Linked DNA regions of Homo sapiens. The protein of the gene in region 4 purifies or fractionates together with the protein of the main gene of each other region. This does not show direct contact. Each region holds a gene or a part of one and is shown on either strand. Other genes may lie near its edges. The genes, in order: TSR1, RSL1D1, RBM19 and RRP12.

The links.
Region 1: the proteins of RRP12 (region 4) and TSR1 purify together in Homo sapiens (affinity purification with mass spectrometry; 4 studies listed by BioGRID and IntAct, with this or other methods). This does not show direct contact.
Region 2: the proteins of RRP12 (region 4) and RSL1D1 purify together in Homo sapiens (affinity purification with mass spectrometry; 2 studies listed by BioGRID and IntAct, with this or other methods). This does not show direct contact.
Region 3: the proteins of RRP12 (region 4) and RBM19 purify together in Homo sapiens (affinity purification with mass spectrometry; 2 studies listed by BioGRID and IntAct, with this or other methods). This does not show direct contact.

What each region holds. Positions count from the first base shown.
Region 1 is NC_000017.11:2,333,441-2,340,445, forward strand, and holds the start of TSR1 (pre-rRNA-processing protein TSR1 homolog), read right to left. Parts: upstream 3,018-7,005; 5' UTR 2,988-3,017; coding exon 2,891-2,987; intron 2,701-2,890; coding exon 2,597-2,700; intron 2,291-2,596; coding exon 2,071-2,290; intron 1,955-2,070; coding exon 1,820-1,954; intron 1,457-1,819; coding exon 1,032-1,456; intron 277-1,031; coding exon 117-276; intron 1-116. Other genes in the region: SGSM2 (small G protein signaling modulator 2), read left to right, coding at 4,249-4,305. UniProt on the Homo sapiens protein: Required during maturation of the 40S ribosomal subunit in the nucleolus.
Region 2 is NC_000016.10:11,841,524-11,848,546, reverse strand, and holds part of RSL1D1 (ribosomal L1 domain-containing protein 1), read left to right. Parts: intron 1-740; coding exon 741-879; intron 880-1,703; coding exon 1,704-1,852; intron 1,853-1,944; coding exon 1,945-2,046; intron 2,047-6,546; coding exon 6,547-6,640; intron 6,641-6,726; coding exon 6,727-6,852; intron 6,853-7,023. UniProt on the Homo sapiens protein: Regulates cellular senescence through inhibition of PTEN translation. Acts as a pro-apoptotic regulator in response to DNA damage.
Region 3 is NC_000012.12:113,823,323-113,830,345, reverse strand, and holds part of RBM19 (probable RNA-binding protein 19), read left to right. Parts: intron 1-7,023. UniProt on the Homo sapiens protein: Plays a role in embryo pre-implantation development.
Region 4 is NC_000010.11:97,398,328-97,405,827, reverse strand, and holds the start of RRP12 (RRP12-like protein), read left to right. Parts: upstream 1-4,487; 5' UTR 4,488-4,596; coding exon 4,597-4,735; intron 4,736-5,293; coding exon 5,294-5,523; intron 5,524-7,500.

The DNA.
Region 1 (7,005 bases), on a different chromosome or scaffold from region 4:
AGACTTTCAACTATACCCCCACCCCACTCTATCCTATAGGGCCCTCACTTGGAACAGCTACAGAAAATCCACAATTCCAGGTCAGATGAATTACAGACAAGTTTACCAATACTGACCCTTTGCCTCGCTCAGCTCCTCCTCAGTGGGCCAGGTTTGCTCTCCCTCCATTGGATCTGGGATAACCTCTGCTTGCAAGGATTCCTGTCTACCAGGGTCTGCCTTCATTAGGACTTTAAGACCTTCTTCCATATCATCTACAGCATCCGTAGCACAAATCTGAAAACCAAAAGCAGGTGATAGTCAACCATGAACCAAAAATCTCCTAAATCTAACACAGTAACCAGAAAGACCCAGAAATATCAGTCCTCATGTATAAGATGAGTGCGACAGAATGCTAAAACTTGTCAAAACTTTTCCAATGGCTGTTTTCTAATTTCCAGGGTATTTTAAGTCTCTGCTTGGCTCTTGAGGTCTTTCTTAATCTGCTCCCACTCCTATCCATTTATTACGTACCTCACTCCCATCAAGCTGATTTCTTCAAGGTTCACATAAACCCTTTGATCCACCACTGTGCCTAGGTTCATTCTGTCTCTTATCTTCTAGGATATTCTTTTATCCCTCTTCAACTCATAAATCACATTTATCCTTCTCAACACCTAGCTCAAGTCTGATCTCTTATGTGAAGCTTGCTAGTCTACTTTCTCAACTTCCACTGCTGGTCCGCACTCTAACCATATGCTATCTCAATCTTTATTTCACACATGCCATTTTGTTCCAGCCCAATTAAGTCCCTTGAGGAAAGCAACCACATCTTGAGTGTGTTCTATAAACTCAGAGCCAATCACAGTGCAGACTACCTAGAAAGTGCTGGATAAATATGTGATTTATCAACCTATTTATAACTGACTATTGCCTTACTTCAGACTAGCAGTCTCCTCATTCACCTAAGTGTACAGACTATCTTCTCTGAATTTAAGTTTCCTTCCTGTGCCAACTTTCATATGAACATGAATTAAGAATATCAGTCTTACCTCCATTGCCATGTCTGGGTCCTTTTGGGGTTTAATTCCTCTAGGATTTAAAGGGAAAGGGTCTCCGGGGGCATCTATCTGTTTCATCTGGAAATCACCATATCCAACGATATGCAGCAACCTATTGACATTCAGAGTCTGCCCTCGAACATAGCCTGAAATTTTCAAGGTGCCCACCAAGTTATTCTCTTCACTAGGAACAAAATCAACAGCATGGGCAAATAGGTAGGCCCGCCGATCTCGAAAAGCAAGATGCTGTTGCTTCTGGTTAGCCAACTGCCTAAGCAGCATCCCTGCCTCCTGTTGAGTGTCTAACAAGAGGAGTTTGTCATGCGGAAAGCGCTTCTCCACTGCTTTACTTAGCTTCTTCCTGGTATCTATTTGTTTCTTCAGTGGGAGGCCAGAAATCCCCTGGACAGCTAGTGCTGTAAGCGAAAGAGAAAACGCTTCATGACCTACTGCTTCATTACATAAAAATCCCTCTGCAGTTCACAAACAACCTAATAGCTCAGTTGCAAGCCCAGAGATCACTGGGAAGCCCAACACTGAACTACCCTGAAGGAATTTCACAGTGAAATCAAACTTCATATCCTTGTTTCTCTGGGCAAAGGACAGCCAAAAACAAAAAGACACCCTGAGTGATAATCTGTAAACAATGGATCAAGTTTAATCCATATGTGTACATCCCACCACCAGCTGAATATGATCCATCAGTTGTATTCCTGTATCAAATACCAGGCATAGTGCCTGACAAATTAAAGGTGCACAATAAATGCTAACTCACTTACTATAGGTCGGAAGGCCCTGAGCAAAGAGGCAGGAAAGACAGTAATCACCGGTGCTGTCCCAGCCTTCTAGTGGATCAAGGAGGAACAGGATGGTATCAGCTACTTTAGCCATGTCTAACACAACGTGCAGATCCCCTGCAGATAGAAGACACAGTAAGAAGAGGTGGTTGGCACCAGCACATTATTCTAAAAAAAAAAAAAAAAAATACCACTACTCAAACATAATACAAAATATTGGTGTATACTCTAACCTGGCCTTGCTGAGGTGAAAAACCACCGATGTTTCAAGCGGGGGCACAGCAGCATAAAGTTCTGGGTGTTTCCCAATTCATTCAAGTGTACTGTTCCAGTGTCCCTATCTTGAAGCAGCTGCATGGCCTCTGGCAGGGAAATTCTGCTGTGCAGGGGCACCACCAGTACCTGATGAGGAGGGCCATCCTTGCCACCCAGCTGTCTCTTCTCTGCCAGAACCTGAAAATAGAAAGATATCCGAGAACATCTCAGTGTCTCAGTACTTCACTCCAGCATTGCATTTCCACTCCCACAGATGCTCCCCCTACCCAAAACCAGCATCTCTCTAGTAAAAGACCACAGGTATGCCAGCGGGGTGGCAGGAATTCTGACCAAAGCAAAGAATGCTAGACCTGCACGCTCGACACGTGCTCTAGGGCTATGCTCTGTCCCTGGACCCTCCTCCCGGTCTCATTTTCCACTTCGAGGCATTAGCCACCTAGAACACCAGAGAAGCCGCATTCTCCCAAATCCCGCTCCTCTCACCGCCTCCTTCTTCTGCTTTCGGAGCTGGCTGGCGCGATGCCTCTGGTCGACTCTGCTGAGTTCTTTTCTCACCTTCTTGCTTAGGGTTTTCAGTGCCAGACGGCCTGAATGGCAGATTAGAAGGGGCTGGTGTGATCGGCCCCACAAGGTCAAGAAAAGGGACTCCTCTCCGCCCACCTTAGAAAGGGCCTTTCGCGTGGAGCCCAGACGGGAGACAGAAGCTCAGTCTGGGCATGAGGAAAAAGAGTTAATAACGGCCAAATAGCCCTTATTCCTTCTACGTTATCTCCTTACCCTTGCCGTCCCGCTGTGCAGATCCCCGACCCCGATGCCGTCCGCCTTTATGAGCTTTATTCTGCTGCTTGAGCGGGCCGGGGCGGTGGGCCGCCATGCCGCAGCGCGCGTGTACGGAGTCAGCACTGCTTCCGGGCCAGGACAAGCGCTTCCGGTCCCCTCCAAGGGGGCGGGCCCTCCAGGGAGCGGGACTCCCTGCGCCCTCTCGCGAAGGTCTTTTCCAGCAGCTCGTGAGAGCGCCGTGTTAGCGGGTTCGCCAAGCCGCGCTGGGAACTTTTCCCACTTCGCAGTGTGTGGTTGGGGGCTTGAAGGCGCCGGATGTAGACTGTCGAGGCTCGGGCTGTTGGTCTAGCAGGGCTGTTTGTACCCCTTGCATTGTCATTTTTTTGCGCTATAAAGCTGCATCACGTAGAAGCATGTTGACTGGAAGGCTCCATTCGTGCCGAAAAGGCCTAAGCCCTTCCTGTCACCTAGATTCGGGCACGTTGCTCTTCCGTTTGCAACGGCATGTTCTTTATCACTCTGAGCAACCTTTCTTCTCCCTCGATTCCCTAGCGAGGCTTGGGAATCGCGTGGAAGACACTTCTCTCACCTTGCCCGGTTCCGTACCAGCTCAAGCCCGTCCCTGTTACTCCAACCTGCGCCCCGCCTCCCACGGAGCGGCCGGGAAGGACCTTGTGGGACGTGGCGACCCGGCAAGGGGGACTGGCCGCGACCCTCCGGCCGTCGGGCTCGGGCGGCTGCGCTCCCACTAATCTTCCCAGAAACTTGACAACTGCACGGCGACGGCCGGACGGGGATTCAGAGGGGTCACGGGGCCAGGCTGCACCGGCTTCGCCGTGGGCAGGCTCGGACCGCAGGGGACCCCATGCCCGAGCCCCGGCCCTTTCCGTCCCGTCGGGAGAGGGAGCAGGCAGAAGTCAGGGGAGCTTCAGCGGGACCGAGGCTCGCTCTCAGCCGCGGGGCCGCGGGCTCCAGGGCCAGCGCTCACAATGCGGCTTCGCGCCCTCCATGCGGGAGCGGGTGCGTTGCCATGACAGCGACCCCCGTGGCGCGCGCCCGGGTCTGCCGCCCCTAGGCGCGCACGGCCTCTCCCCGCCCCGATCCCCCGTCGCTGTGCGCAACCCCCCTCCGGCTGTGGGAAGGGGCCGGGCCTGCCGCCTGACGTCTGTGCGGGGCTCGGAAGATGGCTGCGGAGCCGAGCACCGGGCAGTGGCTGCGGCGGCGGCGGCGGCGGCGGGCCGGGAGCGCGGCGGGCGGGGGCTCCGCCTTGCGCGTGGGGCGCTGAGCCGAGAGGCGCGGAGGCGGCGAGGGCGCGGGGGCTCTGAGGACCGCTCGGCGCCGCCTCCTGCCACACCATGGGCAGCGCAGAGGACGCAGTCAAAGAGAAACTGCTGTGGAACGTGAAGAAGGAGGTAAAGTCGAGTCAAGAACCCCGGGGGGCTCGCGCCCTGGCCCGCGCGGCCCAGGGGGCAGAAAGGTCCGCGCCCACCCCCCGGCGCGGGCACCCGGGCCGAACCTGGGCCGGGCGGGGCGGGTCCTGGACGGGCTGCGCCTCCTTCCCCTTTCTCGGATGGGGGAGGGCAGCGCCCCTCTGCCCGGGGGACCCGGCCGGCGCTCCCGGCTTGTTTGCTTCGCAGCCCCGCAGCTCCCCGCCCAGTGACGGCAGCGGCGCTGGGAGCCCAAGGCCGGGGGAGGGGTGGCGGCGATGGCGGGGATGGCTGGATCCGGAGCTGCCCATTCAGTGCCCGCGCCGCCAGGGGAGGGGGCGGGGCCCCGCGCGAGCTCCCGCGGCGCAGGTGGGTGTCGTGCGGGCCGAGCTTCCCCACGTCCTAAGTGGGTGTCGTGCGGGCTGAGCTCCCCCTTGTCCGACGTCCGCTGTGCCTCCAGCTACGGAGTGATCGCTGCCGGAGGGGTGCGCCGCACACCTCAGTTTCTCCCTCCACGCCCACCTCCTTAGCCAGGGACCAGGGGCTTGTTTGGAATGGTTTTTAACACTCGGAAGTTTTTCCCTTTTGAGGGAAGCCCCCCTACTTCAGAAAGAGAAGTAGTCCTTCCCTCTACTAACTCCGTTTACCTTGACCCTGCCCAAAAGCCCATTTCCATTTCGGGTGGGGGGCAGTGACCATGTGAATGACTCACTCCCATATGAGAGCTGGAGAGCTCCAACCCACAGCGCAGCTTAGAATACATTGGGCCTCCTTCCCCTGCCTGCCTCTGTGGCTGTTGTCTGCCTGGTAAGTAAACTCCACCAGGGCAGGAGACCCTCTGTTTTGTCCACTGCCTTGTATCCAGTGCCTGGCATACTGTAGGCACTCCGTGACTGTTTGGTAAATAAATGTGCTGATTTTGGAGACTTCGAGGCCTGGTGTTTGGAAAGCATACATTTTGGAATAGTCTGGACCTAATTCTGTGTGACCTTGAGTCTCTATGCCGTCTCCCTAATATATATATATATAACCTCACGCCTGTAATCCCAGCACGTTGGGAGGCCTAGGTGGGTGGATCACCTGAGCTCAGGAGTTCGAGATCAGCCTGGCCAATATAGTGAAACCCCGTCTCTACTAAAAATACCAAAATAAGCCAGGGGTGGTGGTGCGTGCCTGTAATCCCAGCTACCCGGGAGACTGAGGCAGGAGAATCGCTGGAACCTGGGAGGTGGAGATTGCAGTGAGCCGATATTGTGCCACTGCACTCCAGCCTGGGCGACAGAGTGAGACTCCGTCTCAAAAAAAAAAAAGTTTACCTTAGCTGAGCCGTAATTAGAGTTTCAGGGTTGGGGAAGCGTCTGGACTCTCATAACATCCTGGAAAGTGGACAGGCGCGGTGGCTTACGCCTGTAATCCCAGCACTTTGGGAGGCTGAGGCGGGTAGATCACGAGGTCAGGAGTTCCAGACCAGCCTGGCCAAGATGGTGAAACCCCATCTCTACTGAAAAAAACAAAAAATACAAAAATTAGCCAGGCACAGTGGTGGGCACCTGTAATCCCAGCTACTCGGGAGGCTGTGGCAGGAGAATCGCTTGAACCCAGGAGGTGTGGTTGCAGTGAGCCAAGATCGAACCACTGCAGTCTAGCCTGGGCGACAGAGCAACTCTCCGTCTAAAAAAGAAAGCTGGGCATGGTGGCTCACGACTGTAATCCTAGCACTTTGGGAGGCTGGGACGGGCGGATCACGAGGTCAGGAGATCGAGACCATCCTGGCTAACACGGTGAAACCTCTCTCTACAAAAAATTAGCTGGGCGTGGTGGCGGGCGAATGTAGTCCCAGCTACTTGGGAGGCAGGAGAATGGCATGAACCCGGGAGGCAGAGCTTGCAGTGAGCCCAGATCGTGCCACTGCACTCCAGCCTGGGCGACAGAGCAACACTCCATCTCAAAAAAAAAAAAAAAAAAAGTCCCGGAAATCTCTAGATGGTTCTCATGCGTTAGCCATGGCCTGGCTACTAGGCCCTAATGTTTGTTCCCACCCCTCCCCTTGGTAAAGATGTAGTTGAAGCCATCAGCTTTCCCGCTTGTGGGAGAAGCTTCATTATGTCTTTGCTGTGAAGAGGCCCAAAAAAGGATTTCTTAGGCCAGGGGTGTATCAAGTCAGCATTTAAGCCCAATTCTGCTCTCCCCAATGAAAAGAGAAATCTTGATTCTCCTGCAAAAGGAAGCAGTCTAGTGACAGAGACTTGAACAGTGTAAACAAAATAGAAAAGTACTTGTGTCTACACTTGAGGTGGATATGCTGGGATTATAGATATGGCTCAATTTTGGAGGTTAGTCACAGATAATGGGAAATACTTTTTTTTTTTTTTGGAGACGGAGTCTTGCTCTGTCGCCAGGCTGGAGTGCAGTGGTGCGATCTCAGCTCACTGCAACCTCCAGCTCCTGGGTTCAAGCGATTTCCCTGCCTCAGCCTCCCAAGTAGCTGGGACTACAGGCACATGCCACCACACCCAGCTAATTTTTCGTATTTTAGTAGAGATGGGGTTTCACCATGTTGGCCAGGATAGTCTCGATCTCCTGACCTCGCCTTGGCCTCCCAAGGTGCTGGGATTACAGGCATGAGCCACTGCGACCGCCAGGAAATATTTTTTAAGAGGATGATGACTTTTTCCACCAGTGCTT
Region 2 (7,023 bases), on a different chromosome or scaffold from region 4:
TCTCAAAAAAAGGAAAAGAAGAAAGAGTTATTATGTTTATGGAGCTAAGAGTTTTAAAGAAGGTAAAATTCTGAACCAGGCTTGTCCTGATTAAGCTAGGTTTTTATAGCGCATTACAGTACGTGTGCACATACAGCAACATATGTATAATAATTATATATGCAAGCATTTGGAAGTCTTTAAGTATATTTTAATTCTTGTTGTATCCCAAGTGTTAATTGATATTTGGGCCTGTGTGTTTTTGTGATTTACTTGCCATTGAAAGTGAGTTTTGTTTTTTGTTTTTGTGTTTTGAGACGGAGTTTGCCTCTTGTTACCCAGGCTGGAGTCCAGTGGTGCGATCTTGGCTCACTGCAACCTCCACCTTCCGGGTTGAAGCGATTATCCTGCCTCAGACTCTCAAGTAGCTGGGATTACAGGCACCTACCACCGTGCCTGGCTAATTTTTTATAATTTTAGTAGAAACAGGGTTTCACCATGTTGGCCAGGCTGGTCTTGAACTCCTGACCTCAGGTGATCCATCTGCCTTGGCCTCCCTAAAGTGTGGGATTACAGGCTTGAGCCACTACTACCGGCCATGAAATGTATTTTTAAGTGTTGTTCTTGGTGCATTATTTGCTTAACTAGCATGACTAAAAGTTATTTAAATAACACTAAGTTTATCGCGTATTCTGTGTGATACAAACATGCATAATGTGTGTAATAATGCTTTCCTCGGTTTCTTTTCACGTATTTTGTAGGACCTTGCCTCATAGTATTCGATCAGATTCAGAAGATATCTGTTTATTTACGAAGGATGAACCCAATTCAACTCCTGAAAAGACAGAACAGTTTTATAGAAAGCTTTTAAACAAGCATGGAATTAAAACCGTTTCTCAGGTAGGAAGCCTGGTTAATATTTTCAAGTTATTTAGAGGATTTAATTCAGGCGAAATGGTATCACAAATACATTGCTATATTTCCTAGTATTTTTCTTCTACTTTTCTCTTTTTAATTTAATTTGTGGTGGCGTGTACATCAGTAGCTTTTATATCTTGCAAATTATAAAAGAGGTGGCTCGTGTCATTCCTCTGTACTTCCACAGCATCTTGTTTTTCTCTGATTTGCTGTTTTGTAGTTGGTGTACTTGTCTTTATTACCCTCTGGATCTAAGGTATCTAAGTTTTTTTGTTTGTTTGGAGTCTCGCTCTGTCGCCCAGGCTGGAATTCAATGGCAGGACCTCGGCTCACTGCAACCTCCACCTCCCAGGTTCAAGCTATTCTCCCACCTCAGCCTACCGAATAGCTGGGATTACAGGCACCTGCCATCATGCCCGGCTAATTTTTATATTTTTATAGAGACGAGGTTTCACCATGTTGGCCAGGCTGGTCTTGAATTCCTGAGCTCAGGTGATCCACCCACCTCGGCCTCCCAAAGGGCTAGTATTACAGGCGTAAGCACATACAGCAACATATGTATAATAATATATATATGTTGCCCACCTAGATCTAAGTTGCTTTAGCTGGGGTCTTTTCTCATTTGTCTCAGTGTTCCCAGCATGTAGCGTAGTGCCTGGCACATTTTAGGCCCTCAAGTGTTCATTAAAGTATAGAGGCATGGCTCTAGGACATTTTTAAATCCAAATCCAAATTGTTGCCTAAGTATTTCTTCTCCTTGTTTAGATTCCTAACTTCTTGTTTTTATTCTTCTCTATACTTCCTAGATTATCTCCCTCCAAACTCTAAAGAAGGAATATAAATCCTATGAAGCCAAGCTCCGCCTTCTGAGCAGTTTTGATTTCTTCCTTACTGATGCCAGAATTAGGCGGCTCTTACCCTCACTCATTGGGAGACATTTCTATCAAAGAAAGAAGTAAGTTTCTTAGTAATGACTGGACTTTAGCAGCATGAAGCTTCTAGGTGTGTATGCATTGTGTTCTGAATGCCTGTGTGTTTATTTTGTAGAGTTCCAGTATCTGTAAACCTTCTGTCCAAGAATTTATCAAGAGAGATCAATGACTGTATAGGTGGAACAGTCTTAAACATTTCTAAAAGTGGTTCTTGCAGGTAGGTAAAAGGCATTCATGTGTGCCTCTTTTAATCTTGTATTTGACAATGATTTTATATATACTTATTCGTTTTGTTTTGTTTTTTGTTTTTGTTTTTTTTTTTTGAGATGGAGTCTTACTCTGTCTGCCAGGCTGGAGTGCAGTGGCACCATCTCGACTCACTGCAAGCTCCGCCTCCTGGGTTCACGCCATTCTCCTGCCTCAGCCTCCCGAGTAGCTGGGACTACAGGCGCCTGCCACCACGCCCGGCTAATTTCTTTTTGTATTTTTAGTAGAGACAGGGTTTCACCGAGTTAGCCAGGATGATCTCGATCTCCTGACCTCATGATCCGCCCGCCTTGGCCTCCCAAAGTGCTGGGATTACAGGCGTGAGCCACTGCACCTGGCCTTTTTAAAAAGATTTTGTTAATGGCTCCAGATCCTTTTTTAAAACTAAAATCTATTCCTCAGAAGTGATCAATTCTCGGGTCAGGTGCAGTGGCTTATGCCTGTAATCCCAGCACTTTGGGAGGCCTAGGCAGGAGGATCGCTTGAGCCCAGGAGTGCAAGACCAGCTTGGGCAACATAATGAGACCCTCTCCCCCAGCCAATTACAGAAAAATCAAGAACATTAGTCAGGTGTGGTGGTGCATCCCTGTGCTCCCAGCTACACAGGAGGCTGTGGCAGGAGGATCACTTGAGCCTAGAAGGTCAAGACTGCAGTGAGCCATGTTCTTGTCACTGTTCTCCAGTCTGAATGACAGAGCAAGACTGTCTTTAAATGAAAAAAAAAAAAAGTTCAGTTCTCTAGAACAATGTTGTCTGATAGCACTTTCTACTGTGATGGAAATGGCCTGCATCTGTGCTGTCTCATACAGTAGGCACTATTTGTATGTAGCTATTGAGCACTTGAAATGTGGCTACTGTGTTAGAAGCTGAATTTTTAGTTAATTTAAAATAGGCACATGTGGCTAGTGGCTGATGGTCACTGCATTGGACGGGGCAGCTCCAGATACTAAGAAAAGCAAGGAGAGTAAGATGAATGCTTGGAGAACATGACTAGTTCTAGGCTTTGAGCTTGTCCTTTATCGTGCCACTGCACTCAGTGGTGCAGTCACAGTTCACTGCAACCTCCAACTCCTTGGCTCAAGCAATCCTTCCACCTCAGCCTCCTGAGTAGCTGGGACTACAGACACACATCACCATACCTGGCTAATTTTTCAATGTTTTGTAGCGGCGGGGTCTCACTATTTTGCCCCATCTAGACTTGAACCCCTAGACAAAACCGGTCCTCCTGTCCTGGCCTCCAAAAGTGTTGAGATTATAGGCGTGACCCACCACACCTGGCCTCAGATTGTCCTTTAAAAGCACCATATTACCCCTTAACGTGAAGATCCACCTCATTCTTGGTTTAACTTCCTATTAAATGAATTCAGCACTTATCCTGTTCATCTGCCTATTTGGTGTGTGTGTTGTCATATTGGTTTAACCTTACCCTGGATACTGAGCTAGGCGGAGCCCCCACACCTAGTCTTACCTACTAGAACAGATGTTTTAGGGCAGTGATTGCTTCCAACCTCTGGCTGAGCAAAGGATGCGGTTCAGGCTATTTTATTAGGCTGAGAAGTGACTTAAGTTTGTATTATTGGCAGTGTATCAGCTTGGGGAGGTAGGGCAGGTTTTAAATGTATTGAAAATACATTTTATGAAGTACTGCACTTGCTGACTGCGGTGTGGAGATGGCTAGCTGCCAGTAAGGCAGAGCTGTAGGCCACTGCCCTTCCACCCAGAGATTCCCCAGGAGCCGTGCAGACCCAGTGGACACAGTCGGCAGAAAACAACACAGACTTCTTGCCTCTGCTCACCAGGGAGGCCTGACCCCAGGGGAGTGTCTCCAGGTAGAGCAGAGCAGGGTACTGGTGGGCAGGACAGGTGGTCTCTGGTGTTGTCTTTAGCCTGCTGCTGGGAATCCCTTCATCAGGTGTAATGAAGTAGCCTAGAAGAGTTGGTCACGGAGCCTAGACCCCTACCCCTTTGGTTAAAGGCTAATGTCAAAGTAGTGGCTCATGGAAGTGGTTGGCTAGAAGTTCAGGCCTTGTTTATGGGACCCATGAGTATCTGGGAGAAGAAGATGGTACCATGAAGGCAGGTAAAGGAGCAGCAGTCTCCTGCCACTGGGGATTTTCCAAGGCAAAAGCAACAGCTTAAAGAAAGTTGCAGACAATTGAGAAAAAAAGAAATCATTCTTTATTTCCTCTCTTACCTTTCCCCAGCAAAAGAATTTATTTTCCTCTTCCACTTCTGTTCCTCTCCCTTCTTCCCCCCCACCATCTTTCCATCTGGGATGCTCAGGTGTGCTTGCAGGCAGGTGGTGACAGGCACAGGGAGTGGGCAGTGCCCAGTCTTTGGCTGAAGAGAGAGAGGAGCAACAGTCCGTCTCATTCCTCATTCCGCAGACACTGTGCCGACAGTGAGCCTTCCTTCTGGCTCACTTCCTTCTGGCCCCAGCGCTGAGCCCTCCAGGCTTCCCACTGGGCTTCTGCCTGCACTCTGTTTCACCTGAAGGGATGGTCTTGCTCGTAGCTGAAAGACACTATTCCACCAGGGACAAGAACTATTTACTCTTTTTTTTTTTTTTTTTTTTTTTTGAGACAGAGTTCTTGCTCTGTCGCCCAGGCTAGAGTGCAGTGGCTTGATCTCAGCTCACTGCAAGCTCCGCCTGCCGGGTTCACACCATTCTTCTGCCTCAGCCTCCCAAGTAGCTGGGACTATAGGCGCCCACCACAATGCCCAGCTAATTTTTTTGTATTTTTTTAGTAGAGACGGTGTTTTACCATGTTAACCAGGATGGTCTCGGTCTCCTGACCTCGTGATCTGCCCACCTTGGCCTCCCAACGTGCTGGGATTACAGGCGTGAGCCACCACGCCCAGCCACAGAACTATTTATTCTTGAACATGGCGGCTGGGTAGAGCAGTAGAACTATAGAGAGAGCAGGTGACCCTCCTGGAGGTAGGTCCCTTTAGAACAGCTTGAAGGCGGACTCAGCGACATGGGGTTGTCTAAGATAAAGGTAGAACCTCCTCTGGCCCTGCCTCCCAATGCGCCTAACCTCACAGTCAGGTGCTACCAGCTCTTTAATCACTGCCTCGGCTGGGCATGGTGGCTCACGCTTGTAATCCCAGCACTTTGGGAGACCGTGGCAGGTGGATCAGTTGAGGGCAGGTGTTTGAGACCAGTCTGGCCAACACAGTGAAACCCCATCTCTACTAAAAATACACAAATTAGGCCGGGCGCAGTGGTTCACGCCTGTAATCCCAGCACTTTGAGAGGCCGAGGCAGGCGGATCACCTGAGGTCGGGAGTTTGAGACCAGCCTGACCAACATGGAGAAACCCCGTCTCTACTAAAAAAAAAAAAAAAAATACAAAAAATTAGCCGGGCGTGGTGGCGCATTCCTGTAATCCCAGCTACTCGGGAGGCTGAGGCAGGAGAATCGCTTGAACCCAGGAGGTGGGGGTTGCAGTGAGCCAAGATCACGCCATTGCACTCCAGCCTGGGCAACGAGTGAAACTGCATCTCAAAAAAAAAAAAAAAAAATTAGCTGGGCGTGGTGGCATGCGCCTGTAATCTCAGCTACTAGGGAGGCTGAGGCAGGAGAATTGCTTGAACCCAGGAGGCGAAGGTTGCAGTGGGCCGAGATCACGTCACTGCACTTCAGCCTGGGCGACAGAGCAAACTCCATCTCAAAAAAAAAAAAAGTCACCCCTTCATGATGTGACATTTTACTTTAGGTAGAAGGAATTTCTAGTACATGAAAGATGATAATCTTCCTTTAAAACATATTTAGGCTGGGTGTGGTGACTCATGTGTATAATCCCAGCACTTTGGGAGGTTGAGGCAGGAGGATCACTTGAGCCCAGGAGTTCCATACCAGCCTGGTGGATCACTTGAGCTCAGGAGTGAGAACCCATCTCTACAAAAAATACAAAAATCAGCTGGGTGACCTGTAGTCCCAGCTACTCCGGAGGCTGAGTTGGAAGGATTACTTAAGCCCAGTACGTTGATTGTGCCACTGCATTTCAGCCTGGGCGACAGGAAAACCCTGTCTCAAAAATGAAATAAAATATATTTAGAACCTAAAGATTTTAATGGGATTTTTTTGTTTGTTTTTTTGTTTTGTTTTTTTTTTCAGACTGTGTTTTTCCCTGTTACCCAGGCTGGAGTGCAGTCGCCAGATCTGGGCTCACTGTATGTAGCCTTGAGCTCCTGGGCTCAGGTGATTTTTCTGCCTCAGCCTCCTGAGTAACTGGGATTACAGGCATGTACCACCATGCCCAGTTAATTTTTGTTAGTGTGGTAGAGACAGGATTTTGCCATGTTGCCCGGGATTAATATTTCTACCTTTTTAAAAGAAAAAGAAAAACTTGAGGATTATGTATTTATATTTCTCATATACCTGCCTGGTTTATTTTGAAAAATGGTTTTTTAAAATCTTGTCTAATACTATATTAAATTTCAGTGCTATACGTATTGGTCACGTTGGAATGCAAATTGAGCACATCATTGAAAACATTGTTGCTGTCACCAAAGGACTTTCAGAAAAATTGCCAGAGGTACAGTATTACAGGTGCATCAATTGATTGTTCATTTAAAAGAAACAAAGTATATGTAGACGATGTTACTCTTTTCTTTGTTTCAGAAGTGGGAGAGCGTGAAACTCCTGTTTGTGAAAACTGAGAAATCGGCTGCACTTCCCATCTTTTCCTCGTTTGTCAGCAATTGGGATGAAGCCACCAAAAGATCTTTGCTTAATAAGAAGAAAAAAGTTAGTAGAATTTTAAATACTTACAGAATGAATAATGAAGGGTGTAAATTCAGTCACTAGGAGAGAAGTAGACCATCATCGCTGCCCGACTTTTCAGTTATCTTCTGGTTTTGTGGTGGTTGTGCTTTTGTCACTTTACATGAGGTAAAATGGGTATGCTTTTGTCACTTT
Region 3 (7,023 bases), on a different chromosome or scaffold from region 4:
TCCCGTGCTCACCCCAGGCCATTTGCATCAGAACCTCTGGAGGTAGGATCCAGGCATCAGTGGGTTCCTAGCTGATGCTACCAGACAGCTGGATTGAGAACCAATGGCCTTTGAAAAGGAAATTGCTGCTACATAGCCTGGGTCTGTTCATGCTTTTCCTGTTGAGACCCCCATCCTAGGGAGGCTGGGCTAGTGTCCCCCTCTGCGGGGCAGGCTTTGCTATGCTGTGCCAGTAAGGCTGGAGCCAACCCTATCTGAGCTCAAGGTCCTGCTTGGAAAGTGTGACCACTTGACTCTTCAGAGTCCTAGTGCGGCTGCTTCCTCATCTGAAAAGTGGGACAATGATGTTGCCTAGCTGGTGGAATTTCTGTAGGAAAGTCCAGAGCCAGCCTGCTGCTTAGAGCCAGCAGGCGCCTGAGGAGTGGTCCCTGCAGCTCGCCCCTTGGCCTTATCTTGGGCAGCTGGATTTCCCCTTTGCTGGGCACTGCCTGTCCTCTGGGGTGGCCTCACAGGACCCTTTGATTGTTAGCTTTCATGTTTGCCTGGCACCTCAACGGGCCGGGCCCTGGGCTAAGTGCTCTCATGCTTTATCTCATCAAATCCCCTGTGGTGGGTGCTACTACTGTGTCCTGTCTGCAGAAGAGTAACTTTGGTAACTCAGAGAAGGCTGGGACCACCAAGTGGCAGCACTCAGGTCCCACCTCGTCCTGTCCACCCTGAGCCCCAGTGTGGCCCCCATGGCTGGTGGTTTAGTTTATCCTGTGGAGTTTTGTTCACTGCCATATCCCCAGCATCATTCCTGGCACATAGAATATGCTGGGTCATGCTTGCTAAGAGTGACTGAAGGCAGGAATCCTTACGGTCCCCATGAGATAAGCAGAGCAGGCACCGTCCCCGTTTAACAGGTGGGAACACTGAGGTAAGGAGCTTAGCAGCTCCTGGGAGTCCCACAGTGGCAGAGGCCAGTCTGCGGCCCAGGCTCCTGCCCACCCGCTCTGCACAAGGACCCTCTCAGATCATACCTAGTTCTTAGAAGGACTCGCTGTGTTTTAAAAAGGCACAACTGGCTGGACGTAGTGGCTCATGCCTATAATCCCAGCACGTTAGGAGGCCAAGGCGGGTGGATCACTTGAGCTCATGTCCAACATGGTGAAATCTCATTTCTACTAAAAATACAAAAATTAGTTGGGCCTGGTGGTGTACGCCTGTAATCCCAGCTACTTGGGAGGCTGAGGCACAAGAATCACTCAAACCCGGAAAGCAGAGGTTGCAGTGAGCCGAGATCGCTCCACTGCACTCACCTGGGTGACAGTGTGATTCTGTCTATTTAAAAAAAAAAAAAGGCACAGCCCTAAAACAGCCTCCTGTATCAATAAAGGGACATTGGCTTGGTCTTAGGAGCCAGGCCAGTCTCCTGAAGAGTACCCTTTATTCTGTGCGTACCTGATGTGTGCCTGCTGTACACAGAGCCCTGAGATGCAGACCTATCTGGGTAGGAGAGCTCTGCCCGTGGGGGCTGCAAGATATGAAGCCAGGGAGGACAGGGAGAGACCCATGCAGAGGCACCAGCAGCTGAGGGTGGGGGTCTGGTTCAGCCAGCCTTCCAGAGCAGGCAGCCTCCCAAGCCAGGCCAGCCCCCGGGTGCCCAGCCCCCCTGCGGTACCCACATCATGGCACCCTCATACTCCCCAAGGGTGGGAGCTACAGGTGGCTGGTGTCCCCCAGCAGCCTAGGACTGCACACCACTGAGTCTGAAGATTGTGGAGCCTCATTCTGGCCTCCACACTCTGCCCCAACCTCCTTCCTCCCCTCGCCCACCTGTGCCCCCGCCCCCTGCCCTTCACCCCGGCCTCTTGGAATCAGTTCTGTCTCCGACTTAGCGGAGTTTGTGGAAGCCTTGCCTATCCTGTGTCTCGGGAAGTAGCAACTCAGGAGCCTCCAGGAACAGGAAGAAAAGCCCCCATAAGTGAGGCTGCGTGTCTCCAGGGGCAGCTAGTGCACAGCCTCATCAGTTACCTGTAGGCAGGGAGGGGACAGGTCTGCCACACTCACAGGTTAGCCATTCCAGGTTCAAGAGAAACGAGAGGTGCAGATTCTTATGTAGCATCTCCCTGTTTTTGAACATTAGTCACTGATTTCTGTATTCATGGCAAATCATGTCAGCAAATCCAGACACTCTTCTGTGGGCCCACAGTGGGAGGCCCTGCTCCATCCCATTGGTCACTTTTTTTTTTTTTTTTTTTTTTGAGACAGAGTCGAGAGCTGCTGTTGCTATCATCGTGTTATAGAGGAGGGGAGCAGCCCACCCTCGTGCTCTCAGTAACAGATTCCATCAACAGCAGTAAGAATGACCAACCTATATTGACAGCTTGCCGTGTGCTAGGCACTATTGTGAGGGCCTTACATACATATATTCATTCTTTTAATACCCTCACACACCCTAGGCGTGTAGATTTCATCACCATTCAGTAACTGCAGAAACTGAGAGGAGCCCAGAGAGGTGAAGCAACTTACCCAAGGTTGCCCAGCCAGGAGCAGCAGGGTTTGATCCTGGCAGCTCACCCACCCAGCACCCTGCATCTAGCACCCTCCACCCTGTACCTCAGGCCTCTCCACTCAGAATCCAGCCCTGGGCTTCCTGGCCCAGTGCTTTTCCCCTCCCCGGACTGTTCACGCCTGCCTCATCCCAGGGTTCCTTTCAGAACTCCCTTCTCCCCTTATCAGCCACGCTCTTCTCCCCCGGCTTGCCTTTCCTCAACGTCTGCTTCCAGAACAAAACCCCAAGAAGCGCTTTCTCTTGTCCTCCCGACGCACCCCCCCGCCCCCCCGCCCTTTCTCCCTGCCTGCGCCTTTCTCCCTGCCTGCCTGCGCCTCCCATGCAGGGCCGACAGCGCCAGCCAGGGAAGGGAGAGACACAGGCTGGCATTCTGTCAAGGAATTAATTGAAAAATAAAATCATTAGGTGGGAACTCCAGAAATGCAAAAATGGTGGTTGGAGGTTGGTGGGGAGGGGGGCAGGACTGGGGGGTTGTCGGGGGATGGCTGAGCTTTTTGTCAAGTTAATTTCTCGGGTATTGATGTTTGGTGACATTCACTTGTTGTTTATCTTCGGGTGCAGCTGTAATACTGAAAGAAAATGCACAGCTTGTTTCGTTTATTTATTTTACACCTTTCTCCGGTTCTGCATTATGTTTGTTTGGTGAAAACCCACTGAGGCTTTTGATGTCGGGGAAGTGGGATTTCAGCAGCTGTTCGCTGCAAACAGGGTGCTCCTCAAGGAAGCAGGGCCAGCGGGAGGTGCGGGGTGTCATTCGGTGGGAACTCGGGGCCTGACATGTCCTCCAGGGGGCAGTTGGGGGCCCAGCCTGAACCCTGGCAGATATGCCAGGCCCAGGAGCACGGAGGCTGGCTTATGATACATGAGTACATAGTTGGCAGGTAAAGGAATGAGATGTTTTGGTTCATCAAGGCCACAAAGCCAGGCTCCGCGTAAGAGCCCCCGCCCCATGAGTGCTCACTGCCCCAAAGACCAAGAGAGACACGAAGTCAACACCTTTCCTATCAATAATAGTAACACAGGTGTTGGTCTCAGCACCATCGACTGAGCCAGGGGCTGGGCATTGCCCTTTTTACTCATTTCAGCCTCACCACAACCCCTAGTATTTCCATTTTACAGGTTAGAAATTGAGGCACAACTATCTGGTTCTTTCTCCATCTCCCCCTGCCAGACCAGAAAGCCTTAGGTGGGGCCAAGCCAGGCTTGTTCCCCACCATGCCCGACCCAGAGCAGGTGCTGCAGGTGTCTCCGTCATGTGAGGGGATGAGAGCATGGATGAAGGCTCTGAACAACTGCTCTTGGCCTCGTCTCAGCTGCTGTTTGTCCTTCAGCAACCTACACTACTTGACCCTCAATTTTCCCTGTCATTCACTCCCTCAGTCGCTCAGCACACATTTATTGAGCATCTACTATGTGCCAGGCACAGTTCTGGGCATTGGGAATGGAACAGTGGACAAAACAGGCAGAAACCCCTGCCCTCCTAGAGCAGATGTTCCAGCCAGGAAGACAGATAATAAAGTGGAAACATGACACACAGTGAGACCGGGAGACATGCTGTGGGGGAAGTGGACAGGAAAGGGATTAGGAAGTGTACATCAGGGCACTCTGGAGGACTTGGAATTTTAAATAAGGAGGGAAGCTTCACTGAAAAGGTAAGGCCCCTGAGTGGCTCCGTGGAGGAAGAGCATTCCAGACCAAAGGAACAGCAGGTGCAAGGCCCTGAGGTGGGAGTGCTGGAAGCCAGGAGCCAGCAAGGGGCCCGAGTGCCTGAGCAGAGTGGGAGGGAAGCAGAGAGGTGGCAGGGCCTGCTCAGTAGCCCTGGCAGCCGACGTGACAGCTTTAGCTTTTCCCCAGGTGAGATGGTGCCCCTGGAGGCTTGAGCAAAGGAACAGCATGCCGTGATGGAGGATTTAACAAGCTCCCTCTGGCTGCCGTTTGAGACCAGACTCCTGGGAGGAGGGCAGAGGAAGCCAGAGGCAATGGTGGCACGGCCCAGGGGTGCAGGAGCATGGGGAAGAAGCACCCCAAGTCCAGCTCTATCTTACAGGTTGAGCCGACACAATGGATGGGGCTAGAACTCGCCCCTCGCCAGTCCCTCCAAGTTGTCAGGATGTGGGAGAGAAGAAAAAGTCCCATGCCGCCACCGCTGGCCATCCCTTAGACCCCAGGCCAGGCCTGGCCCAGGAAGGCAGGGACCCTGCCCCAGGAGTGAGCTGCCATCCCCAACTCATATTAGCAGATGGGAGGGGCGTCAGTGATCGCCTGTGGGCCCTGTTTTGTTGCGTTCTATTTTCCAGTTCCTATTACCTGCCCACAAATTCAATTTCCAGAGGCCATTGTGCACCTCCAGGGCTGGCGATTATAAGGAAACCAAGAGTGTCTAGGAGGTCACAAGGAAGGAGAGGAAGCCGGAGTCCGAGCCCCGGGCCGCCAGCCCCCACCACCCCAGCCCACCCTGTCCCCCTCTCCCTTTTCATGATTAACAATGATGGGTAGAGCTGCAAGGCCTTGAGGCTCTCAGGTGGCAGGCAGGTGGGCACCTCCCGCACCTTCTGCACGCTCACCATGGGGCAGGCTCTGCCGTCTCTCTCTCACCCTTGCTCCGTCCGCTCATTCCCCTTTCTGGGATATTTCACAAGCACTTGCTAGGCACCAGGCAGTGTGCTAAGGCCAGGGACACAGCAGTGAGTGAGACAACATCCCACACAAAGAAAGGCCTGCGGCAGTGTGGGTAATAAAAAGTGCCAGGGGGTGGGGTGGCATTGGAGCTCAGAGGTAGAGGGAGAGGGAGATCTGGGTGCTGCCGGTGCAAAGGTCTTGAGCAGGGGGAGGTGGGCCAGCTCCAGTGATGCCTCCAGAGGAACTTGGGGCTTTCTTAGGGAGTGGTGGATCTGACGCACATGTTTTAGAGGGATCCCTTGGTGGGAGGGGGGTCTCTAGTGAGGGGCTGAGAGGTACTTGGATTGGGGTGCAGCCGTGGAGATGATGAGAAACGGGTTCAATGTTTGAATTGATTTGGGAGGGACGAGATTGAAGAAACAGGCTCAGAGAGGTGAAATCGCTCACCCAGGAACACGCAGAGGGAAACCAAGTCTTCATCTCTGGGCCAGGCACTGTGCTAGCCCTGGGGAGGTCTCAGTAGAAAAGGCTAGGCCGCTGCTGTGAGCTCCAGGGAGCTCACAGCCTGCGGATAAATGGAGGTAAAGGGCCTCAGGGTGGTTTATTTGGGGAGGTGTTTGAGCCATGGAAAGGGAGGGGATTTGGACAGCCTCTTTACACTGCCTCTGTACAAATCAAGCCTTATCTGTGAGCAAGGCTGCTCATCGACAAGTGGTTAGACTAGCAGAGGGACTGACAGAGGAAGCCAGCCTGGATTCCAACCTCGCTCTTTTCCTGGAGGGCCAAGGGGCCCCACACGTCCTCTCCTGCCACCATTGATCCCCTTGGAGTTCTCTGCCTAGAACCCGAGACTTTCATAAAAAGCAGAAAGACTGTGGGCTTAGGTGTGACTGGGGTTCGAATCCTGGCTCCACCGCTTCTTAGCTGAGTGACTTCAGACCTGCCTGTCCGTGCCTCAGTTCCGTCTCCTACAAGAGGCAGCATACCACCTGCCTGTGGGGTTGCTGACAGGAGTGGAGCCATGGTTCATGATGGTACCTAATCAGGAGGTGCTTGTGGGGCTAAGCCCACCATGCCCTTTCCTACCTCCGTGCTTTTCTTCATGACCCTGAATCCCCTCTCCTCACAGAAAACTCCTCTGCATTCTTCAAAGCCCAAGTCAAATAGTCCTCCTCTTCAAAGCCACCTCTAATTGTCATTCCCTCCACGCCTCCTCTGGAATCCTTGAGCTTTGCATCTGTTCTATTCACCCACCACTTATCGAGCACCTGTTGTATGCCAGCCATGTACTGCACCATTAGCCTGGCCTCCAAGAAAACAGAAACAACTTCTACTTGTCTCCCCAGCCGTTGTCCACTGCTTGGTCCAGCCTCTCTGAAGGGTTTCAGCTTCCTCCAAGCCAAGCTCTGACCTGCTGTGAGGAAGCAGCACAGGAGACCCTTTCTCTCTTTTTTCTCAAGGGAATCCTTTCCCCTGCGGGTAGAAGATGGGGAGGGGATGGCCAGGGAAGCAGGAGAGTTTCTGGGGGTGCGAGGGAGGCAGCCCCGCCATGGTGATGCTGAGACTAACTCTAGTGTTTCTCTCTCCTCCTCATTTCCCCTTTGATTCTCTCCCCTACTCCTTATCTTTCTTCATTGCCCCATCCTCTCTCCACCTCCCTCTGTATCTTCTCTCCCTCCGCTCTCCCCAACTTCCCTCTCTTGCATTCTCTCGCTTCTGTTCTGTCTCCCCGCACCCTTGTTCTGCTCATCTCTCCCCTCTCCCTCCTTCCTCTGTCATTTCTCTCTTCCTGCCTCCCAACCCTCTCGGCTGTTCTTTTCTCCTCTCTTGCCATCTGGGCTCCCACA
Region 4 (7,500 bases):
TGTTGGCATTACAGGCGTAAGCCACCGCCCCCGGCCCACTTTGTATTTTCAGTAAGCCCATGAAGTGTAATATACATGTAAGCAGGGCATGGTGGCTCACGCCTATAATCCCAGCACTTTGGGAGGCCAAGGCGAGCAGATCACTTGAAGCCAGGAGATCGAGATTTGTCTGGGCAACGATAGCAAGATTCTGTCTCTTTTTTTTTTTTTTGGAGAAGGAGTCTCGTTCTGCTGCCCAGGCTGGAGTGCAGTGGTACGATCTCAGCTCATTGCAACTTCCGCCTCCTGGGTTCACGCCATTCTCCTGCCTCAGCCTCCCGAGTAGCTGGGACTACAGGTGCCCGCCACCACGCCCAGCTAATTTTTTATATTTTTAGTAGAGACAGGGTTTCATTGTGTTAGCCAGGATGGTCTCGATCTCCTGACCTTGTGATCTGCCCGCCTCGGCCTCCCAGAGTGCTGAGATTACAGGCGTGAGCCACCGCGCCTGGCCAAGACTCTGTCTCTTAAAAAAAAAATTAGCTTGGTGTGGTGGGTATGTGTCTGTAGCCCCAGCTATTTGGGAGGCCAAAGCAGGAGGATGACTTGAATTCAGGAGTTTAAGGTTATAGTGAGCCATGATCATGCCACTGGACTCCAGCCTGGGTGACAGAGTGAGGCCCTAGCTTTAAAAAAAAAAAAAAATTAGCCAGGCATGGCAATGCATGCCTGTGGTTCCAGCTACTCGGGAGGCAGAAGTGGGAGGATTGCTTGAGCCTGGAGGTCAAGGCTGCAGTGAGCCATGATTGTGCCACTGCATTTCAACCTGAGTGACAGAGGAAGACTCTGTCTCAAAATAAATAAATAAATAATTAAATCATAAATAAATGGGATTATAACTATGTACTCTTGTGTCTGGAGTCTTTTACTCAACCTAGGTCATGCATGATATATGTAGCAGTAGTTCCTTCTCATTGCTATACAGAGTCAAATACTATAGTATTCCATTATATATCAATATGTCACAATTTATCCATTCTACTCTATCTCTCTGTCTGCCTGTCTGTCTTATCTATCTATCTATCTATCTATCTATTCTAGACACAGAGTCTCACTGTGTTGCCCAGGCTGCAGTGCAGTGGCATGATTATAGCTCACTCTAACCTTGAATTCTTGGGCTCAAGTGATCCTCCTGCCTTAGTTTCCCAAGTGGCTAGGACTACGGGTGCATGCCACCACATGTGGCTAATTTTTAATTTTTTTTTAGAGATGGGGTCTCACTATTTTGCCCAGATTGGTCTTGAACTGTTGGCCTCAAGCAATCCTCCTGCCTCAGCCTCCCAACGCACTAAGATTACAGGTGTGAACCAGTGCATCCAGCCTCATTCTACGGTTGATGGACATTTTATTATTTCCATTGTGAACATCCTCCTATATCTCTTTTTTGCATATAAGTAAACATCTCTGTTGAGTAAATATGCAGGAAGGTATTGCTGGGTCATGGAGCAAGACTGTATTCAGTTTTAGTAGATACTACCACACAGTTTTCCAAAATGGTTGTATCACTTTATACTCCAATGGCAGCATATGTTGCCAGTTTCTCCACATCCTTACCAACATTAGTATTGCTAGTCTTTTTAATTTTAGCCATTCTGGTGGGTGTGTAGTGGCATTTCATTGTGATTTTAATTTGTATTCCCATGTTGATAATGAAACTGGTATCTTTTCTGTTCTGGTCTGTTCTTTTTCTTTTTTTTTTCTTGAGACAAAGTCTCACTGTGTCACCCAGGCTGGAGTGCAGTGGTGCTATCATAGCTTACTACAACCTCAAACTCCTGGGCTTAAGAGATTCTCCTGTCACAGCTTCCCAGGTAGCTGGGACCATGGGTGCACGCCACTGCACCCCACTATTTTTCTTAGTTTTTGAGGAGACAGGTCTTGCTGTGTTGGCCAGGCTGGTCTCCAACTCCTGGGCTCAAGTGATCCTCCTGCCTCAGCCTCCTAAAGTGCCGGTATTACAGGCGTGAGCTAGCATGCCTGGCCTGTTTTTCATATATTTATTGGCCATTTGGATATTAATTTTTGTGAAGTGCCTGTTCATGACTTTTTTATTTTTTGTACAATACATCATGATGTTCAGCTGTTTGTGTCTTTTGCCATTCTTCTTTTTTTTTATTTTTGAGACACAGTCTCGCTGTGATGCCCAGGCTGGAGTGCAGTGGCACGATCTCAGCTCACTGTAACCTCCACCTCCAGGGTTCAAGTAATTCTCCTGCCTCAGCCTCACAAGTAGCTGGGACTACAGGTGCCCACCACCACGCCCAGCTTAATTTTTTTTGTATTTTAGTAGAGATGGGGTTTTTCACTATGTTGGCCAGGTCTTGAACTCCTGACCTCGTGATCTGCCCACCTTGGCCTCCCAAAATGCTGGGATTACAGGCGTGAGCCACCACACCCAGCCGCCCATTCTTTTTTTTTTTTTTTTTAATTTTTTTTCTTTTTTGAGACAGGGTCTCACACTGTCACCCAAGCTGGGGTGCAGTGGTGCAATCACGGCTCACTGCAGCCTTGACTTTCTCTGGGCTCCCACCTCAGCCTCCTGAGTAGCTGGACTACAGGTTCACACCACCATGCTCAGCTAATTTTTGTATGTTTTGTAGAGACTGGGTCTCATGATGTTGCTCAAGCTGGTCTTGAACTCCTGGGCTGGAGCAATCCTTCCTCCCCTCTACTCCCTGCCCCCCGGCCTCCTACGGTGTTGGAATTCCAGGCCAAGCATCAGCCACTGCACCCACCTGTCCCTTTTGCCCATTCTTTTTATTGGATTGTCTGCCTTGTTCTTATTGATTGGTAGGAATTCTTTATATATTATAGATGTACTTTGTTAGTTCTATATATCTTCTTCCAAAGAATGCTGCTAAAGGTTTAGAATAAAGCTGCTGGGCAAGAGGGAAGAGAAATGTGTCTTTTGTAAGGTTTGGGATCTGGTTGAAGGATTTTAAGGAGGGTCTCAGGGGAGTGGGGATAAACTGGATCGGTTGCTGGTTCTGAGGTGGAATTAGGAGAACTGGGAATTGGCCGGATGCCAGGTGCGGTGGCTCATGCCTGTAATCCCAGCACTTTGGGAGGTGGGCAGATCACCTGAGGAAAGGAGTTCGAGACCAACCTGGCCAACATGGTGAAACTCTGCGTGTACTGAAAATACAAAAAAAAAAATTAGCCGGGCGCGGTGGTGCATGCTTGTAATTTCAGCTACTTGGGAGGCTGAGGCAGGAGAACTGCTTGAACCTGAAATGTGGAGGTTGCAGTGAGCCGAGATCGTGCCACTGCACTCCAGCCTGGGCACCAGAGCAAGACTCTGTCTCAAAAAAAAAAAAAAAAAAGAGAGAGAGAGAGAGAAATTGGAGAACCAGGGATTAATTAGGGATGGAATGCTGTCATAAGGCAAGGTGGCTTAGCAACTGAGTATCTCCAGTAATAAATGAAAATAGCAAAGCTTGTCTAGAACACCACTGACTGCTTTTTTCTCTTTTCAAGTCAAGCTAATTTTCACACTTTCAAGTCTCCATAAGTTTTGACTTTTCTTTTTTTTCTTTTTTTCTTTTTTTGAGATGGAGTTTCACTCTTGTTGCCCAGGCTGGAGTGCAATGGCGTGATCTCAGCTCACCGCAACCTCTGCCTCCCAGGTTCAAGCGATTCTTCTGCCTCAGCCTCCCCAGTAGTTGGGATTACAGGCATGCGCGACCACGCCCGGCTTATTTTGTATTTTTAGTAGAGACAGGGTTTCTCCATGTTGGTCAGGCTGGTCTCGAACATCGTGACCTCAGGTGATCTGCCCGCCTCGGCCTCCCAGAGTGCTGGGATTACATATATACTTTTATATGAAGGTATATGACTTTCATATAAATGTGTTTCTATGCTTAATTTTGAAAATAGATTTTCAAATGTAATATAAATGTACTTTTTGTTGTTGTTTAACTGCAAAAGAACTCCAGTTTTTTGTTTGCTTTGTTTTGTTTTTTTGAGACAGTCTTACTCTGTTGTCCAGGCTGGAGTGCCGAGGCGTGATCTCGGCTTACTGCAAACTCCGCCTCCCGAGTTCAAGTGATTCTTGTGCCTCATCCTCCCGAGTAGTTGGGATTACAGGCGCGCGCCACCAAGCCCAGCTAATTTTTTTATTTTAGTAGAGACGGGGTTTCACCCTGGTGATCAGGCTGGTCTCAAACTCCTGACCTCAAATGATCCACCCGCCTCAGCCTCCCAAAGTATTGGGATTACAGGCATGAGCCACCACGCTCAGCCAAACTCCAGTTTTATAAGGCTTACGCCTGTGGCCCTGAAACCTGGTCCTGGCTGGAGTAAGAACCCCATAGAACCCTTAGCAACCTAACTTCCTCCCTAGCAACGGATCTCCTTGGAGCTCCTCCCCATCCGAAGCCAGGAGGAGGTGTAAAACCGGATGTTGACTGTTTTACCATAGTAATGCACACGAATCCGGAAGTGACGCCAGAAGAAGAGGAAGTGAAGGCTACAGGGTATCCACGTGGGTTCTGAGCGTGTTTCTACGTCCCTGGAAGCCGGTCATTTAAGCTCATTCCTCGCCACGGCTTAGTCAACATGGGTCGCTCGGGAAAGTTGCCTTCTGGTGTCTCAGCTAAGTTGAAGCGCTGGAAGAAAGGCCACAGCAGCGACAGCAACCCCGCCATCTGCCGCCACCGTCAGGCCGCCCGCAGCCGCTTCTTCAGCCGGCCGTCAGGTAGCTGGGTTGAGACCCGAGCGCAGCCGGGGGCGGGGTTCCAGGCAGACCTGGGTCCAGATGAGTCTGGGGCCTCTGGGAGAGTGCGGGGCCAGGCATTGGACCTTTCGTCTCTTAGGATGTCGGATCTGGAGCCCTCTCTGAAGGGCAGTCCTTCCAATTTAGCAGATACAGAAACTGAGGTCCGCAGTAGGGAAATGTCTTGTGTAAGGTACCGCGGGTGTCAGAGTTGAGACAGATGGCTTGGACCTTGGGTAGCTCTTTACAGAGCGCGTTCACCTTCATTTATTTTGCAGGCCCTCTGAATGTAGCTCCCAGCCGATTCCCAGTGGCGTTTATGCCGCTGCTACAGGGAAGCAGAAACTTTTACATGGAGGATTCCCTTTCTCCTTGGTTTTTCAAGTTTTTAGGCATACAGTGGTTTTATGAGACTGGCTGTGTTCAGAATTCAGCCTCTCGGGTTGGAGATTTGGCCTGGGCTGGTTTGTTTCCCAGGGGTTGTTCTGTTCTCTTGACCAAAAGGAGGCTTGGACCTTATCTTGTGCCTCTGGCTCTCAGGAAGGAGTGACCTGACAGTCGATGCTGTGAAGTTACATAATGAGCTGCAGTCAGGGTCCTTGCGCTTGGGCAAAAGCGAAGCCCCGGAGACGCCCATGGAAGAAGAGGCGGAGCTGGTTCTCACCGAGAAGTCCTCGGGTACCTTCCTGAGTGGCCTTTCCGACTGCACAAACGTCACCTTCAGCAAAGTACAGCGCTTCTGGGAGTCCAACTCGGCTGCCCACAAGGAGGTAGGGGCGAGGGTCGGGAGGGCCATAGGATAGTGAGGAGAGGCCAACTCATGCCTTTTCTTCAGCTCTGGCCGACAGGTCTCCGATGACAACAGCTGGTATTTCTGGATGATGCGTCATCGCTCCTCCCCTTTATGTCTCCTCCTAGGGCAGGTTCTACTTTCTGCTTTTTATAAGAACATCTCCTCTGCTTAAGTACTTGAGGGTAGAAATATTTTCCAAACATTTCTCTCCTCAGCTATACCTAACACAGCACTTTTACACAGAGTATTTTCAATAAACATATGTTGAGTAAATAAATGCTGAGTAACAGTGATTAGGAAACGTTTTATCTAGCAAGAACTAAATTTATTTACTTTAATTTAACTTAATTCATGTATTTATTTTGAGACAGAGTCTCGTTCTGTTGGCCAGGCTGGAGTGCAGTAGCGCAATCTTCACTCACTGCAACCTCCATCTCCCAGGCCCAAGCAATCCTCCTGCCTCAGCCTCCCAAGTAGCTGCCATTACAGGCATGTGCCACCACGCCCGGCTAATTTTTTTTTTTTTTTTTTTAGTATATTTAAATAGTGCATTATTCAAGTAGCTAATTTTTTGTGTGTGTGTATTTTTAGTAGAGACGGGGTTTCACCATGTTAGCCAGGCTGGTCTCAAACTCCTGAACTCAGGTAATCCGCCCACCTTGGCCTCCTAAAATGCTGGGATTACAGGCATGAGCCACCGTGCCTGGCCTTACTTTTATTATTTTATCTATACTATAAAGTTATATATATTTTTTGTTATTGAAATAAAAAATGTCAAAATTCTAAATGATATCAAAATGATATAAGAATAATATAATGTGATGGTAGATCCCCCAACTTGAATCATTCACAGAGCTCCTGTTAATGGGTCATTGTCTGTCTTCCTGGACCAGCTCTGTCCAATAGTAATCTAAATTCAAGCCACATATGTAATTTAAAAATGTTTAGTAGCCATATTAAAAACTGAAAGAAACAGGTAAAATAAATTCATCTTTTTATTTTTTTCTGGAGCCGGAGTTTCGCTCTTGTTGTCCAGGCTAGAGTGCAATGGCACGATCTCGGCTCACTGCAACCTCCGCCTCCTGGGTTCAGGTGATTCTCCTGCCTCAGCCTCCCGAGTAGCTGGGATTAGAGGCGTGCGCCACCATGCCCGGCTAATTTTCTGTTTTTAATAGAGACAGGGTTTCTCCATGTTGGTCAGGCTGGTCTCAAACTCCTGACCTCAGGTGATCCACCCGCCTCGGCCTCCTAAAGTGCTGGGATTACAGGTGTGAGCCACTGCGCCCGGCCCAAATTAATCTTAATAATGTACTTTATTTAACTCAGTATCTTTAAAATATTATCACTTCAATGTATAATCAGTATATTTTACTACAGCATTATTTTTATGATACCAAGTCTTCAAAATCTAGTGTATAATTTACCCATATACCCCTACTTAGATGCTAAATTTTCATTGGAAATACTTGATTTGTGTCTATTTAGAGTTCATAACATTTATGGTTGTACAAGTAGATTTGCCTACTATGAATTACTACGAACCTATTTGCCAGGTTGTTACAAATATATGTTTTCTAGTAAATAGATCAAATATTTTAAATTATGAGTAGTTGAAATTTAAAAACTAAATTTTCAGGCTGGACATAGTGGCTTACACCTGTAATCCTAGCACTTTGGGAGGCCGAGGTGGGCAGATCATTTGAGGTCAAGAGTTTGAGACCAGCCTGGCCAACATGGTGAAAACCCATCTCTACTAAAAAATTAGCCTGGCATGGTGGCATGCGCCTGTAATCCCAGCTACTTGGGAAGCTGAGGCACGAGAATCACTTGAACCCTGGAGGCAGAGGTTGCAGCGACCCAAGATCGCACCACTGCGCTTCAGCCTGGGTGACAGAACGAGACTCTGTCTCAAAAAAAAAAAAAAAAAAGGCCGGGCGCGGTGGCTCACGCCTGT